Homo sapiens: one gene and its partners. The gene in region 2 interacts genetically with the main gene of each other region. Each region holds a gene or a part of one and is shown on either strand. Other genes may lie near its edges.

Region 1 (3,727 bases), on a different chromosome or scaffold from region 2:
ATGAAATAAAAAGGATGAAAAGGGGCTAGGCGTGGTGGCTCATGCCTGTAATCCCAGCACTTTGGGAGGCCGAGGTGGGTGGATCACGAGGTCAGGAGATCGAGACCATAGTGGCTAACACGGTGAAACCCCGTCTCTACTAAAAATACAAAAAAATTAGTCGGGTGTGGTGGCAGGCGCCTGTAGTCCCAGCTACTGGGGAGGCTGAGGCAGGAGAATGGCGTGAACCCGGAAGGCAGAGCTTGCAGTGAGCCTAGATCGCCGACAGAGTGAGACACCATCTCCAAAAAAATAAAAATAAATAAATAAAATAAAATAAAAGGATGAAAAGAAGATAGTAGATAAACTAAATGACTTTTTACAAAAAGATTAAGCCATTCCTCTGTGTAATATATCTTTTGAGGTAGGCAGAAGGGTCAGAGGTAACAATGGCAAATGTGTAAGAGACTGTTTCCAAGCCACATACCAGAAGTATTCAAAGGCATAATGCCTGGGACTGAGTGATCTAGTTACCAGGGCTGGCCCTCTGCAAAACTCTTGGCAAAGATCGCTGTGGTTTTTGGTACCCCTTTCCCTCTACTGCTCCACTAGGCAATTCCTGCTCCTCAGAATACTCAAGGAGCTCATGCTCTGACCCTTTCACAATTCATTCTCAAGAATGGCACTGTGAAGCTACACCTCATCTCTACTAAAAGTTTCTTTTTTTTAAATTAGCCAGATGTGGTATCGTGTGCCTGTTTGCCCCAGCTACTTGGGAAGCTGAAGCAAGGGGATCACTTGGATCCAGGAGGTCAAGGCTGCAGTGAGCTGTGATCATGCCATTGCACTCCAGCCTGGGCAACAGGGGAAGACCCTGTCCACAACCCCAAAAAAGAAAGGTTCTGTGAAACTATACTTCTATAGTACAGCAGGGGTGAGGATGAGAGGTTGTGCCAAAATTTCGTTTTAAGGACTATTTCTAATTGTAGAATAAAAGTATGTTTCCTGTTAAAGGAATTTCAGGTATTAATCCAACAGATAGGAGAGATGTTTGGGCCAGGAAGCCTCCTTGGTACCCTTGGAATCAGAGGTGCCTTCACATAATGCCCTGACCAGACTTGACTTCTGAAGGAAAGCAAAGAAAAAAAATTATTATACCTCTAATGAAAACCTGGAACCTGTTATTCTGGATGATCACTGTGTGGCTTGCATTGCCAATGTGGGTCCACAGGCAAAGGGGCCCTGGGAACTATAAACTGATGAGTGTCTGGTTCTTCAGTAGGCAAGCTGGAAGAATTTTTAATAAATGCTAGCCTCCTGTACACAAAAGCCATCAATCTATTGGGATGTGGGTGGCATCATGCTTTTTGTAAAGCGAAATCATGTGTAATCTTCTACAGATCTTTTCCTTGGGGCTAAACTTACTTTAAAAATGCTTCTGATTAGGTTTGATACCAAGGCTATTTTTAAACATGAATTACCATGGGATTTAAAATATTTTTTATCATGTAGTAGGAACTGGTCTACAGAAAAAAAAGAGAAAATATAGGGTAGAAACAGATATTTTTTCTGACTGAAGAAGGATAAATAGACTTCCTTGGGGGTGGGCACTGGAAAATCCTCAAGTCTACAGATAATACTCAGCTTTCCCAGGCAGTGAAATGCCAAGTTGATGGGAGATAAAGAAGATCTCAGGAGGTTTTATGATTGGCAGATAACCTTCAATAGGGGCACATGTAAAGTGATCCATTTAGGGCTTTGTAAGGGGTACATGTAAGGTGATCCATTTAGGGTGATCCATCTAGGGAGCACTAGATATTACAAACTATACTTGCTGGATGATGAGTGCTGACCTTTCAATTAAGACCCAGGAAAGGGCTCGAGGAGACACTGTGGACAGTGCACTGAAGAGAACAACCTAGTTTTCTGTTATGGTAAAAAAAAAAAAAAAAGGGTAACAAAATCAGGCACTGTTAAGAAAGGGATTAAAAGAAAAACAAAATAATTCTCCTTTTACATAGAACTGCAGGATATCTTTATTGGTAAAGTTACATAAGCAGCTCTGATCTGCACATCTCAAGGACAGAAGAGAGCTTAAGGGGAACAAAGAAGGGCAATTAAACCATTGATGGCAGGCTCCAAAAAAAAAAAAAAAAAGTTTTTTCAGCATGATAATACAGAGGTAGCCAGGAGACATGATCAAAATTATGAAGAGGCTTATGCTGCTGAATAACTGAATGATGACTTGGCTCACCAAATCTCTTGAGCTAAGAAGCACTTTTGAAGCATAAAGTTTTTATTTTTTAATAGTTCTGCTTTGTTTATACAACTGCCAGTGATGATGGCCAGTGCAGGCAGGCTTCTTTGGGAAGAACCTCCACCAGAGGTTGGGAGAAATACGAGCTAAGTTGGGGAGGGATCAAGAGTACCTCAATCCCCGTTACTTACCTTCAGTAATGTTGACTGGCTGACTTCTATTCGGATTTGCTTTCTCTGCCACCACTTGTGCCTGACCAATCTCAATTTTTATGAATATGAGTTTAACACAACCCCCCACCCCCATTCCATAAGGCTTTTCAACTCTAGTGGTCCACACATTGGCACCAATCTGTCTGTCTACGATTGTCTGTAACTTAATCCTTAGCCATGGTGTAGAAAGAACAGGTATCTGACTCCAATTTTAACACAGTGGATAGAAGGTAAGAATGCATGATGAATAATAATAGTCAATTCTCTAATATTTACACCAGTAGAAGAAAGCACAGGTCTCCATAATGAACCCTGACAACTGAAATGAACCCTGCCAGGTTAATGAAATAAGACACATGTAGGTTTATTTAGCTAAGAAAGTAGCAAATAAGGGATTCTTCAGGATAGCAAAAAAAGCTCTGCTCTTGGGATGGGCTTAATCATATTGAGTAAGATCCAACCTGGAGCATGGCTCTGGTCCAACTGCTTGGCTCTGCCATACAGCGGATAGCTACTGATCAAATAAGCATAATGACCAGTATACAAAAGCTTTATAGGTATATAGATGTTTTCTTTTTTACATTGTTCTTGTTTACATTGTGAGATGGGGGCCATTTCATCCTACAGAACTGCAATCCACTTATTACTGGCTAGTGTTACTGCCATACCTTTCACAGATCTGGTAATATTTTTCATCTTGTATGCCATCCTGAATGGGCACATTTACACTGTAGTACCGTCCCTTCCCTAGGCCAACATCAGACACGTCACCTGTTCCTATAAAAGAGAAGAGCACTATGATCAGTTATTAGGAACATGAGAACCCAGAAAACTTAAAGGATTTCCTGATAGGGAAATTTCTAGGGAAAGAAATTAAGAAAAATTATATAAAGAAGTAAGTATTGTAAACAATCTTGGAGAAGCAGGCAAATCATAAGGAAACTGAAAAACCTCAGTTTTCACCTTACTGGATCAAATGAAAAAATAAGAGATTAACTCCTTTGCTTGGCTTCATGCTTTTTAGGTTGACATAACATCAATTTATCACTGCAATTATTCAGGATGTTAGGAGTTGCATGGGGTGTCTACTAGTATAGTAAGCATAAGTGATCTGTTAACAGTCCATAAAAATCACCTGGAAAAAGAAACAGCTTTAATGTCATTCTTCTTGTTATTGTCACCTGAGGTGACCTGTGTTAAAATTTTGCACAGGACTGAGAAAAACAATCAATGGGGAAAGGATTCCCTATTTAATAAATGGTGCTGGGAAAACTGGCTA
Region 2 (3,500 bases):
CTCAGGCTCAGGGAAGAATCTATGGCAAACTCAAGGAGGAGAACTTCTTTGGTCCCAAGGAGGAAGTGAAGCTGGAGACCCACATACGTGTGCCAGCATCAGCAGCTGGCCGGGTCATTGGCAAAGGTGGAAAAACGGTGAGCTGTGAGGGCCAGGTTGAAAGCCCTGGGCCTTGGTCTCCAATCTCAGCAGCTCTCTCTGGTCTCCTGTACTGCTCAACCTCAGGACTCCTGATTTGCTCATTTACTTGATTCTACTCCCCAAGCTCAGGTCCTGACTCTTCCAGGTTCTCCCCACTAGTCACCCTGGCTCCTCCCTCCAACCCCACCCATGCTTTCTTGATGGCACCCTGAGCTCCTCTCTGGCCACCCCCAGGTGAACGAGTTGCAGAATTTGACGGCAGCTGAGGTGGTAGTACCAAGAGACCAGACCCCTGATGAGAACGACCAGGTCATCGTGAAAATCATCGGACATTTCTATGCCAGTCAGGTACATATGGTGCTCCCCCATTGAGGGAGGGCTGCAGGAGCCCAGGGAGCAGAGAAGCAGAGACTCTATAGAGGTTGACCTTCATGACGTTGACAAGTCCTGGGGCCTCAGCCACATCTGCCTGCCTCTAGGCTAGGTTATTGCCCTCTTTCAGGTGCAGAAGTGGGATGTGTAGATGACATATTACCTCTTATTACTCTCTAGGAAAAGTGATTTGACAAGTTTAATGTACATATATTGTGTATAACATTATATATATAAATAACATATATATGAATATATATTATATGTAAATATATATATATATGTTCTACGTTAGTCCCTCCCTAACCCCTTTCTGCACTGGTTAAGAAAGAAGATTAGTTTTGTTCATGGAATAATGATAACAGTACTAACACCCTGGATTGATGGCATTTTTGAAATGTAGTCCCTCTGCCTTTCGCAGAATGGCTGTTCTCTCCCTGGTTTCTGCTCTTCCACCCTCCCATTCCTTTCCCAGAACTCATCATTGCCGTTCAGCACTCGGACAGGCTCCAGAGCATGGAAGGGAAGGCCAATATCAGGTTCAAATTTTGCTGAACCTCAGCAAGGCAAGCAAACAGGTGGTTGGCAGCTAATGGTGTTTTCCTAAAGTCTTAAATCCATCATTGTTAGAACTGGAAAGGAACTTTGGAGACTGTTGATCACAGTTCCTACAATTCATAGAAGATATCCAGATCTTAGCAGGCTTGTGGTCTGCTGGGGCTGCTAGAGCAATTGGGGCAAACTGGCTCTTGGTTTTTTGGCTTCCAGTGCCCATATAGTATAGCATCAAGTATGAAGGTTTTGGATCCAGGGAGCTTTGACCTCAAACTTCACATACATAGCCTTTCTGCTATGTGACCTTGGATAAGTAACTTTCTCTGATAACCCTTTGAGAAGTATTAACAAGAGGCTTTAGTTACATCTCAACTATATATATATATAAAATAACAAAAAAGTATTAATAAGAGCCATAATAATAATAATATCTAAGATTTATCGATGCCTTTGTATACCCAGCACTGTTTTATGTGGCTTATGTATATTAACTCATTTAATTCCCACAACAATTTCATTTTATAAATGAAGCTTAAGAGGGTAAATGTGAATCTTTAATTCAGCGTTTTTTTTTTAAAGAGAGTAAAGGATACCTCCAAAGATGCATAAAGCCAGGATATATTAATATTAAACACTGAAGCAATTTTAGCTGATCAGAATGAGAATTAAATGAAAAGCTATGTAAAACATCAAGCCAGGGTTGATGGAGTTGGACCTCTTATTGACTTACACATTATTTTCCCAACCTAGATCAACTTCCTCTTTTTTTTTTTTTTTTTGTGACAGGGTCTCGCTCTGCCATCCAGGCTGGAGGGCAGTGGTGTGACCACAGCTCACTGCAGCCTCTACCTCCCAGGCTCAAGTGATCCTCCCACCTCAGGCCCCCCAAGTAGCTGGGACTACAGGCAGGTACCACCACGCTCAGCTAATTTTTGTATTTTTTTGTAGTGATGAGGTTTCACCATGTGGCCCAGGCTGGTTTCAAACTCCTAGGCTCAAGTGATGTCACTGCTTCAGCCTCCCAAAGTGCTGGGATTACAGGCATGAGCCACAATGCCCAGCCTCAGCTGCTTCTTTAACCAGGAAAGGAAGCACTCATTTATGGAAAGGAGACATTCTGGTCTTCATTCTATGAAGTGAATCCCATTTTGCAGTTTATTTCCTTTATAAAACTTTATTCTTAGGGAAGAACCTTTTAAGAAGGAAATAATAAAAGATTGGGTATTTTGTCCATTTTTACAGTGAAGCTTATGTATTTATGCTTTTTGACTAACCCATATCTGGACTTTATTTTTTATTTTTACTTTTTTTTTTTTTTGAGATGGAGTCTCGCTGTGTTGTCCAGGGTGGAGTGCAGTGGCACAATCTTAGTTCACTGCAACTTCCGCCTCCCCTGTTCTAGTGATTCTCCTGCCTCAGCCACTCAAGTAGCTGGGATTACAGGCGCACGTCACCACGCTCGGCTAATTTTTGTATTTTTAATAAAGATGGGGTTTCACCGTGTTGGCCAGTCTGCTCTCGAACTCCTGACCTCAGGTGATTCACCCGCCTCAGCTCCCCAAAGCGCTAGGATTACAGGCATGAGCCACCGTGCACCTGGCCATATCTAGACATATTATTCCTTTTCCTGGGGTATTAAAATGAAGCGTGGATTTGTGATGATGTCTTCTAAGTTACGACCCTCTACAACAGGAGTCCCCAAACCCCGGGCCACGGACTGGTACCGGGCCACACAGCAGGAGGTGAGCGGCAGACGAGTGGGCATTACCTCCTGAGCCCCGCTTCCTGTCAGATCAGGGCGGCATTAGATTCTCATGGGAGGGCTAACCCTGTTGTGAAGTGCTCGAGGGATGCGCAGTGCATGTGAAGGATCTAGGTTGCACACTCCTTATGAGAATCTACTGCATGCTGATTTGAGGTTTCATCCTGAAACCACTTCCCCACCCCCACCTCCATCCGTGGAAGAAAAATTGTTTTCCATGAAACCAGTTCCTGGTGCCAGAACAGTTGGGGACCACTGCTCTGCAATATGTAATATATTTCTGCCTAGAAACTCTAGGCATTCTGTTTTGCGTTTGGTAATGTTTATCAACTTTGTCAAGTTTTAAATTCTGATGAATGGATTGATACTACTGTTTCTCCTTCCTTCAAGTCCCCCAACCCCATCTCCCACTTAACACCCACCACGTTTGCTGTATTTTCCAGGGGATACTCAGGCTCCACTGGAGGCAAAGAAATGTAAGGTCACCCCAACCCTCATTCTTCCTCTTTATCTTTCTTCTGAGTCCTGTGTGACCTGTTCTGTTTATTGCCTGTGTCTGGACCTGATGACCTCTCTTCCGTGGAAGGCTGTCTCCTTGGAGGTCTCACACCCACTCTCTTGCCTGTTCTTGCTGCAGATGGCTCAACGGAAGATCCGAGACATCCTGGCC
Region 3 (3,827 bases), on a different chromosome or scaffold from region 2:
TCTTTTCCCCCAGTTACCTGCCATACTTGGGGGCTGTATCCCCTGGACTGGTTGGTGGCAAAAGTGTAAAGCGGAAGTCACCAAGTTCACTGGTGTGCCCACTGATAAACTTCAACTGCCCCTTGGCCCCAACCTCTGGTAGTAGGACTTCCTTGCCATCTGTCACCACATAGAAGAACAGGGAGACCAAAGGGAGGGCAGAAGTACCTGAGTCCTGAGTGACCAACGAGGACAGAAAAGAACAGTGTTAGATTGGCATTCTCTCTTGAATTCCCTCTTGAGAATCAGCCTTAGTGAGGGAAAGGAACAGTAGGCAGGGGTAATGTAAACAACATACGTCTGGCAGTAATGAGGGTCACTGAGGGTAACCAGGTACACCCAAGCGGGATGAGATAAAGAGCCTTGCACTGGGTGCCCTGGGAGATAACAGTATACTTTTGTACTATGTCCTACACTAAGAACTCTACACAGTTGATTTCATTTAATTCTTTTTTTTTTTTTTTTTTTTTGAGGCGGAGTCTCGCTCTGTCGCCCAGGCTGGAGTGCAGTGGCGCGATCTCAGCTCACTGCAAGCTCCGCCTCCCAGGTTCACGCCATTCTCCTGCCTCAGCCTCCCGAGTAGCTGCGACAATAGGCGCCCGCCACCACGCCCAGCTAATTTTTTGTATTTTTAGTAGAGACCGGGTTTCACCGTGTTAGCCAGGATGGTCTCCATCTCCTGACCTCATGATCCGCCCGCCTCAGCCTCCCAAAGTGCTGGGATTACAGGCGTGAGCCACCGCGCCTGGCTTTTTTTTTTTTCTTGAGATGGAGTTTTGCTCTTGTTGCCCAGGCTGGAGTGCAATGGCACGATCTCGGCTCAGCGCAACCTCCACCTCCCTGGTTCAAGCAATTCTCCTGCCTCAGCCTCCCAAGTAGCTTGGATCACAGGCATGCGCCACCACGCCCGGCTAATTTTATATTTTCAGTAGAGACGGTGTTTCTCCATTTTGGTCAGGCTGGTCTGGAACTCCTGACCTCAGGTGATCCGCCAGCCTCGGCCTCCCAAAGTACTGGGATTACAGGCGTGAGCCACCGCGCCCAGCCTCTTTTTCATTTAATTCTTACAGTCCTGTGAGTTAAGTGCTATTATTATCTACATTGTACATTTTACAAGCAAGGAAATCAAGGCTTAGAGATGGTAAATAGAAATGGTTATACAGGCAGTTGTTTAAGGCAGGATTTAAGCCAGGCAGCCAGAGCCCACTTCATGCTGCATTTGCTGGCAGCAAGGGAAGGATGGAGGGGGTCTGGGCTGAGAAAAGGGTGTCCTGAGGCCCTGACCTGAGGCTCTACAGTCACTCTCCAGCTCCAGTCCCCTCCGTGCTGACCCCCAGGCCTCTTGACGAACTCAGTGGTGAGCCTTAAGGCCCCATCCTGGATGTGTTGGCGCCCGAAGGAGAGGCCGTCGTGGAACTCCCAGCCATAGGGACCCACACCGTCCCCCTGCTCACACGTGTGCCTGAGCTTAGGAGTCCCCGGGGTGGTGCCCTGCTGCGCCCACATCAGTCCTGGGGGTAGAATGGCCACGTAAGTCAAAGAGCAGGGGACCTGTCCCTCCGGGTCTCCGGGTCATCCCTCTTCATAACTCTCCTGATCCATTCCTTCCCACCCTTGCTCTCGCTTCAAGCTGGGGCGCCCAGATTAGGAGTCCGCCTGCCTGCCCGCCCTGGGGCCCGGTTACCGGTGAGGAGGGGCTTCGGGCTGCGGGTCTTCATGCCGAAGTAGACGTGAGGGCGGTAGGTTCCCCAGAAGAGGTCCGGGGCCACGGCGGGGCTGGAGGAGTCGGCAGGCAACACAGGAGGCGCGGAGTGCAGCGTGACCGCCCGCCGCGCACGGTACCACGCCAGCACCCAGCGCCCCGACATACCCAGGGCCAAAGACAGGACCACGACGGCCAGAGCCACTCCTCCAGCCGTGCTACGCGGCCCGCCGCCCCGGCCGTCCCGTCGCCCGGGGCCTCCCCGAGCCGCCCTCTCGGCTGTCCGCACTCCCTCTGCCGGCACTGCGCGGCGCCGCCGCTCGCCCCGAGCCATCCTGGCACTGAGGTCCGCGTCACAAGAGCTCGGAGAGGCGGCAGTGGAGCCCGGGTCCTGCCTCACCTCTCCGGCTCCCGCCTCTCGCCCTGGCGACCACCGTCCGGTTAGCGACACCTGCCAGCCAGCGCCTGCGCCTCCGCCTCCGCCTCCCGCCGGAAGTCCCGCCCCGCCACGTTAGGTTAAGTCCCAGAGTCCGGAACCGCTGCCTGCGGCTTGACACAGGGTTGGTACGTAGCGTCTGTCCTGGGCGTTGGTCCACCGGGATTGCGTTTATCTGGCGACCCCATGGAGTTCACAGGCTCGGAAAAACCAATCTAACGTTGGGCTGAGGCATGAGAATCGTTTGAACCCGGGAGGCGGAGGTTGCAGTGAGCCGAGATTGTGCCACTGCACTCCAGCCTGGGCGACAGAGCGAGACTTCGTCTCAAAAAAAAAAAAAAAAGACTGATGTGGCCAGGCACCGAGGCGCACATCTGTAATCCCAGCACTTTGGGAGGCCGAGGCAGGTGGATCACCAGACATGAGGAGTTGGAGACCAGCCTGGTCAACTTGGTGAAACCCCATCTCTACTAAAAATACAAAAATTAGCCGGGTGTGGTGGTGGGTGCCTGTAATCCCAGCTATTCGGGAGGCTGAGGCAGGAGAATTGCTTGAACCTGGGAGGCGGAGGTTGCAGTGAGCCGATATTGCGCCATTGCACTCCAGCTTGGGCAACAAGAGTGAAACTGTTTCAAAAAAAAAGAAAGAGAGAGAGAGAGAGAGATGGAGGGAGGGAGGGAGGGACGGAGGGAGAGAGAGAGAGAGAGAGAGAGACTGATGCTTTATGCAACACGACCACTTATATTTCACTATAATCTGACTGGTGGCCCCACTCTCCACTAGTGGTAGACTTTTTGCTTATGAAATCATCTGACCAAACCCAATGGTTAGTCCTGTTTTTGTCTTTCTTGCTACCGTTGCATTTGTCGACATCCTTATTGTAGCACTTATTACATACCTGTTTCATTTTTCATCTTTGTATCACAGTACTAATCAATTATAGGCATAAGGCAGATGCTAAATATTTATAAATTCAACACATGTTTATTGTACACCCTATATCGCATTATGCAAGGTGCTGGGGACTCAGAGAAAATGGCCCCAACCTCAAGTTCACAGTCTAGAAGCACAATGCCAGCACTCAATGCATGTTGAACCATACCCATTTTTTTTTTTTTTTTTTTTTTGAGACGGAGTCTCGCTCTGTCACCAGGCTGGAGTGCAATGGCATGATCTCGGCTCACTGCAACCTCTGCCTCCAGGGTTCAAGTGATTCTCCTGCCTCAGCCTCACGAGTAGCTGGGATTACAGGTGCCCACCACCACGCCCAGCTAATTTTTGTATTTTTAGTAGAGATGGAGTTTCACCAGGTTTGCCAGGCTGGTCTCGAACTCCTGACCTCAGGTGATCCACCCACCTCGGCCTCCCAAAGTGCTGGGATTACAGGCGTGAGCCACCGCGCCTGGCCAGACCACCCCCATTTTTACAGATGAGGAGAGTAGTTAAGACTGACCCAAAATAACAGCCAGTTAATTATGGAGCTGGGGAACTCAAATCCAGGTTGTTCTTTTGACTTTAGAATAAGGCCTCTTAGGGCAGGCGCAGTGGCTCAAGCCTGTAGTCCCAGCACTTTGGGAGGCAAAGGCGGGCGGATCACCTGAGGCTGGGAGTTCGAGACCAGCCTGACCGACATGGAGAAACCCCGTCTCT

Evidence for each region.
Region 1: changes in IGF2BP1 (region 2) and HDAC8 together harm fitness more than expected from each alone (negative genetic interaction), as found in Homo sapiens cells (one large-scale study listed by BioGRID).
Region 3: changes in IGF2BP1 (region 2) and MOGS together harm fitness less than expected from each alone (positive genetic interaction), as found in Homo sapiens cells (one large-scale study listed by BioGRID).

What each region holds. Positions count from the first base shown.
Region 1 is NC_000023.11:72,485,817-72,489,543, forward strand, and holds part of HDAC8 (histone deacetylase 8), read right to left. Parts: intron 3,226-3,727; coding exon 3,117-3,225; intron 1-3,116. UniProt on the Homo sapiens protein: Histone deacetylase that catalyzes the deacetylation of lysine residues on the N-terminal part of the core histones (H2A, H2B, H3 and H4).
Region 2 is NC_000017.11:49,045,885-49,049,384, forward strand, and holds part of IGF2BP1 (insulin-like growth factor 2 mRNA-binding protein 1), read left to right. Parts: intron 1-5; coding exon 6-137; intron 138-375; coding exon 376-489; intron 490-3,467; coding exon 3,468-3,500. UniProt on the Homo sapiens protein: RNA-binding factor that recruits target transcripts to cytoplasmic protein-RNA complexes (mRNPs). This transcript 'caging' into mRNPs allows mRNA transport and transient storage.
Region 3 is NC_000002.12:74,463,173-74,466,999, forward strand, and holds the start of MOGS (mannosyl-oligosaccharide glucosidase), read right to left. Parts: upstream 2,211-3,827; 5' UTR 2,076-2,210; coding exon 1,724-2,075; intron 1,551-1,723; coding exon 1,324-1,550; intron 215-1,323; coding exon 18-214; intron 1-17. UniProt on the Homo sapiens protein: In the context of N-glycan degradation, cleaves the distal alpha 1,2-linked glucose residue from the Glc(3)Man(9)GlcNAc(2) oligosaccharide precursor in a highly specific manner.